Regions from separate parts of the Homo sapiens genome. Here region 2 is linked to region 1. Evidence: fine-mapped expression QTL. A gene starts in region 1. The other region holds a variant in brackets. All regions are shown on one strand. Distances are between the middles of the regions.

Region 1 (2,919 bases):
AAAACAAACTTTATTCTATGCTGAATCTCCCTATTGTGGCTTGGTTTTCTAAATTCCTTTATTTCTGTTATTATTACTTCTTTCTACCTTCTTAAGATTTACTATTTTTCTAACTTCTTCACTTAATCATTGCTCAGTTAAATATTTAGCTAATAATTTTCCAATTGTTTTGTCCTAGTACAGACATTTAAGGTTAACATTTTTCCTGTGAGTATACTTTTTGTTGTAGTCTATCAGTTGTGCTTCTCTTGTTTTTCAGATCTAAATAGTTTATAAATTGCAATCTGATTTCTGCTTTAAGCTATAAAATATTCGGAAAAGCACATTTTGGCATTCTTTACTAATTTTATTGCAATGTTTTCAGAGAACATGTTTTGTGTGTTACCAACTCTTAGAGACTTTCTTTGTGGCCAAGTACATGAACAATTTAAAAATATATCCTATGGATGGACTTCAGGTGCCAGCCAAGATGAAGTAAGCCTGCTAGAATCTTTCTCTTTCACTCATTACAATTAAAAATTCAGGACAAAATACTAAAACACTTACCTGAGGATGATTCCGAAACAAAATAATAGCAAGGAGGTTGAGGAGCGACATCAAAACTCAAAAAATGACCAGTATGCCAATAGTGAGTTTCCTAGGATATTTTCCTTCAAGATCATCTGGTCTTGGCTTAAGGATGGGCCAAATCAGGGAACAATGTGATGGGAACAGACAGCAAAAACTTTGAGAAAACCCTGGTTTTCTGTCAGAGTACTAAGAAACTGGGACCCTGAGAGGTGGAAAGTGGAGGTTGAAGGTGAAATCCCAATGTGTTTTTCTCTCCCTCTGCCCCAAGGCCAGCTTCATTGACCAGCTTCAGTGCATGTAGAGGCAGCAGCATGAATGTAAGCCCTAGAAATCCATCTTTCTGGACAGAGGAACCAGGAAAATGGGCCTCTAGGGGCCTCTGTGTGTAAAGACTGTGGAAGGAATTCCCATTTTTATTTTCAGTCTTTTCTTTCATTACTTCATCCCCCGGGTATATCCAATAACACAGAACTGTGCAACTGTGTGGAAAACTTAGAAGACTCCTGGCCAGAGGGACTGGGAAAAGAGGACCCTGAGAGACAGACTCTGAGAGAGAAAATTATTTAAAAAGAAAAAAAAAAAGAGAGAGAGAGAGAGAAGCGGCCCCGCCCGGCTCGCAGCGGCAGCATGGCCGCAGCGCGGGGGCAGCAGCAGCAGGCGGCTGCGCGCGGATGTCGCAGGGTTTCGCGGCAGCATGACGGACTACCTGATCAGGGGCGGCACCGACTATGTGCCCGATAACTGGCTCCCCGCGCAGCAGCTCTTTGCCAGCGCCGACTGCCTCACCTACGACGACTTCCTGATTCTCCCAGGATTCACAGACTTCATAGCTGATGAGGCGGACCTGACCTCAGCCCTGACCCGGAAGATCACGCTGAAGACTCCGCTCATTTCCTCCCCCACGGACACTGTGACAGGCCGACATAGCCATTGCAATGGCTCTGATGGGAGGTATTGGTTTCATTCACCACAACTGCACCCCAGAGTTCCAGGCCAAGGAGGTGCGGAAGGTCAAGAAGTTTGAACAGGGCTTCATCACGGACCCGGTGGTGCTGACCCCCTCGCACACTGTGGGTGATGTGTTGGAGGCCAAGATGCGGCATGGCTTCTCTGGCATCCCCATCACTGAGACGGGCACCATAGGCAGCAAGCTGGTGGGCATCGTCACCTCCAGAGACATCAACTTTCTTGCTGAGGAGGACCACACCACCCTCCTCAGTGTTGGCTCCAGCAGGCCTGATGTTGAAAGAGGCAAATGAGATCCTGCAGCATAGCAAGAAAGGGAAGCTGTCTTTCGTCAATGATCCGATGAGCTGGTGGCCATGATCACCTGCACCGACCTGAAGAAGAACAGAGACTACCCTCTGGCCTCCAAGGATTCCCACAAGCAGCTACTGCGTGGGGCAGCTGTGGGCACCCCTGAGGATGACAAATACCGCCTGGACTTGCTCACCCAGGCGGGGGTAGACGTCGTAGTCTTGGACTTGTCCCAAGGGAACTCGGTGTATCAGATTGCCACGGTGCATTACATCAAACAGAAGTACCCCCACCTCCAGGTGATTGGGATGACAGCCGCCCAGGCCAAAAACCTGATTGACGCTGCGGTGGACGGGCTGCGCATAGGTATGGGCTGCGGCTCCATCTGCATCACCCAGGAAGTGATGGCCTGCGGTGGGCCCCAGGGCACTGCATTGTACAAGGTGGCCGAGTATGCCCTGTGCTTTGGTGTGTCCATCATAGCCGATGGCGGCATCTAGACCGTGGGGCACGTGGTTAAGGCCCTGGCCCTTGGAGCCTCCACAGTGATGATGGGCTCCCTGCTGGCCACCACCACGTAGGACCCCGGCGAGTATTTCTTCTCAGATGGGGTGCGGCTCAAGAAGTACCAGGGCATGGGCTCACTGGATGCCATGGAGAAGAGCAGCAGCAGCCAGAAATGATACGTCAGCAAGGGGAATAAGGTGAAGATCGCGCAGGGTGTCTTGGGCTCCATCCAGGACAAAGGATCCATTCATAAGTTCGTGTCCTACCTCATAGCGGGCATCCAGCCTGGCTGCCAGGATATTGGGCCGCAGCCTGTCTGTCCTTCAGTCCATGATGTACTCAGGAGAACTGAATTTTGAGAAGCAAACCATGTCGGCCCAGATCAAGGGTGGCGTCCATGGCCTGCACTCTTAGGAGAAGCGGCTGTACTGAGGACAGCAGTGGAGGCCAAGGTGGTGGAAGGGGCATACCGCAGTGTCCACTTTCAGGCACAGCCTCCCTCCATAACTGAGTGGTCCACAGACTTGCACTATAGGTTCCCCAGCTCCTTTCCAGGGAGAAAGGAGGGGAAGTTCTGAGGGGTCT
Region 2 (2,919 bases), 540 kb before region 1:
CTAATTCTAGACTTCCCAGAATTAACTTTCCTTAGTATGATTTTTTCTTAAGGAACAGCTGAAGAATGTGCCAAATGAGGAAAGATGTTTAATCTGGGGGAATTTGGACTAGCCTCAATTCCCATAACAAGAGAGATCTGTTTTTCTATATGTGGTGAGCTCTGGATAAAACTCTTTTCAAGGCTTTTTAAAGTTTGCAAATATTAATAAGAGCCCTCAAAAAAGCAAAAAATTTCTGAGGTGCCAATGTTTGCCATATAACTATTCTGTCAATATTACTCTCCCCACCACCACTTACCTGCATTCGATATTATCATCTAATACAGAGATAAGGAAGATACAAGTGACCATCTAGCTTCCCTAATAGGTGCTGGAAACCTCTTTTGTAAAAGACATGGGGAGACCATGGATGATCTCCAAGAATGTAAGTGAAAAAATATCTCTGCAAGTATATACTTGCACTTTAGAAGGGAGCTTATACCTTTTTTCCAGCTCTCTCAGAACCTTACACACCACCATGAAAGATATATTTGAGACCTACTTTAATATACAAGGATAACAGTATATAAAACTAGAATCAAAAAGTGCCAATCAATGATATATCCTGAAGAAGACAACACAAATATTTTAAAGACAGATAAAACTTCACATGGGGAGGAAGTTGGGGAGTGGGGAATTAAGATATTCTATGGATAAAGAAATCTCCAATAAAGAAGACTTTATATTTTTGAAAGCCAAGGAAGAGATTAAACAATTTTAAGATCTCTTTCTGTTCTATCATTATACTTGAATAAGCAGATTCAATTTTAATATCTTTATTAAAGAAAGATCTCTGGATCTTTCTTTCTGTATAACTCTGTCCTTTAATGTCTTTAAAGCTGAGCATTAACTATATATTTTTTATATATTAATCCTTTGAAAGATATGAAAAGTGTACCATGTGATAAATTTTAAATCACTTATAAAGTAATGAGGATTTGATGTAACTTCCAAAAATATCAAATCTCTGGTCACCATTCCCAGAAAATTACAATTGAATGAGTTAGGTAGGGCATTCAACAAGAAAATATCTGATTTCTGATGATATGATCATGTGTTGGGTAGGACTTTGATAAGAAAGAGATGAATGGCAATTTAGACTAACTTGTCTTTATAAAAATGTACAATAATGAGCATTAAATATGTGAATCAAAGAGTACTATTTATTGGATTCTGTGAATAAAGTGGCACCAATTACCTGTCATTCTCAGGACCCATAGTTCTCATCCTTCATGGGTTTTCTTCTGTTTGGATGGAAGTGACTGAAGAT[T/G]AACTTCTTAATGGCTCCTGGGGGATCATGACTCAGCTGCCAGGACTTCTCGTTCCTTTAGAGTGATTCAGAGGAGTTGATCACGATGTCATCTGGGCAGATGGTTGTAGTCACCAACAGCTGTAGTTCCTCTCTTGAACCAAACTCAGACCCCTCCCAGATACTTGTCATTAGAAGCAATCATGAATTCTTAGCTTTTTCACATTAAGGCTTATTTTTATTACTAAAAATACTCTCCTTAATAGGAGTGAAAACACTGATCATTATTTGTCATGTTTATTGTACTTACAGATAAAAATTTTAGCTAATATTTGAAACTATAACATTTTTCTAATCAGGAAGTTTTCTAATTCATCATAAATCTGAAACCAAAAGGTTCTAGAAATCCAGTCTCAGGTATTATGAGTGTAGATTTTGCCCCCTTTTTCCCCTAAATATAATAAAGTAACATTTTTGTGAGAAATTCCCATACCTGGGTGAACATTTTGCTCTCCTTTTGCCATACCACAAGTTGAGATCATCAGAAGCAGAAAGTTGAGAAGTCTCCAATGTATTTGCCTAGGCAGAGATAAAATCTGATGGAAACAGGCCTTCAGGAGAAATGAAGAAACTGACTTGATCTTTTTAGCTATTAATCCTTAAAAATTTTTAAAAAGGTAATATCAACCTGAATTCCAGAACCTGTTAGGAAAGTCTCGTCTTTCCATGTATTTGCAAAGCACATGTACCTCCCACAAGATATCCCATTCATTATGAATTAATAGATTGATTTTAACTAACAAATTAATTCATTTACCAAGAGTTACATAGACAGGTAGGTAGATACACAATTAAAGGAGCAACTCTTCAGGAAACAGATGTTTTGGTCCTGAAATACCATTTGCTTATCTCACTCAATAACAGGTACCTAGAAGAGCAAATACAAAAAGCAGGTAAAATAGCCAAAAGTAGCCACAGGTTTCTCAATCTCTCTATATCATTCTCATTTTTAATATGTATGGTAATTATAATAGAGAAATACACATTTAATATATTATTCTTTTTTTTTCCTCTCATGCCAAAAATTCATTGTATTATCTTGCATTCGTTTTTTATTCCATTTCCTTTCATTTGGAGCTACTAGTTTTGTAGTTGTGCAGAATTTTATTCTTGAAAACCTCCGTTTGGTTCAGATATGTAATGCTAACTTTTATTTGTTTTTTTTCCCCTCTTAAGGAAATGACGATAACATACCATAAAGAGCTTTGCTTTTAAACAAATTTAGTTAGTATGGAAATCAGTAGTTTTGATGAAGAAAGGTGAATTCATTCAAAGAAAACAATGTAATCTTTTTCTGAAAAAAAAAAAAAAAAACTTACAAATTTAACTATAAAGTCCAGACAAAATAATTCCATTCATTTTTAGAGAGTTTTAGTAGTTATGGACAACTATACATAGAACAGGCATATTAAAATACTATTCATTACTATAAAAAGAAACATTGGCATTATTTCCTTTATTATGTGTTTCTTTTTTATTTCAATGTGTTCGTTGTATTCTTAGTAGTGGAGATCTATAGTATATCACATTCTCTTCAGATTTCAATTGCAAATTTTAAGAAATGTGTTTAC

Which allele goes with the higher level. Alleles are on the strand shown, and positions count from the first base shown. SD is a standard deviation of normalised expression in the study named.
As copies of G replace T in region 2, the expression in esophagus mucosa of the gene that starts at base 1,369 in region 1 goes down (moderate effect, 0.69 SD a copy in GTEx).

What was found.
Region 2: its variant is fine-mapped to the expression of CALCRL-AS1 in esophagus mucosa (GTEx, PIP above 0.99). The same link has a PIP of 0.9 or more in sun-exposed skin.

Annotation. Positions count from the first base shown.
Region 1 is chr2:187,001,723-187,004,641 of GRCh38, reverse strand. CALCRL-AS1 (CALCRL and TFPI antisense RNA 1) reads right to left here and starts at 1,369. Exons shown (of 6, transcript NR_187179.1): 1 at 1,277-1,369. It also overlaps the pseudogene IMPDH1P7.
Region 2 is chr2:187,546,026-187,548,944 of GRCh38, reverse strand. The region is part of intron 1 of TFPI (tissue factor pathway inhibitor); the gene reads left to right. CALCRL-AS1 (CALCRL and TFPI antisense RNA 1) reads right to left here. Exons shown (of 6, transcript NR_187179.1): 4 at 2,106-2,216; 5 at 1,782-1,867; 6 at 1,420-1,462. Among named protein-coding and RNA genes, the nearest start is that of TFPI, 7.0 kb to the left of the region's middle. RefSeq lists an enhancer at 917-2,116. The variant T/G (reference allele first, on the strand shown) is at 1,310.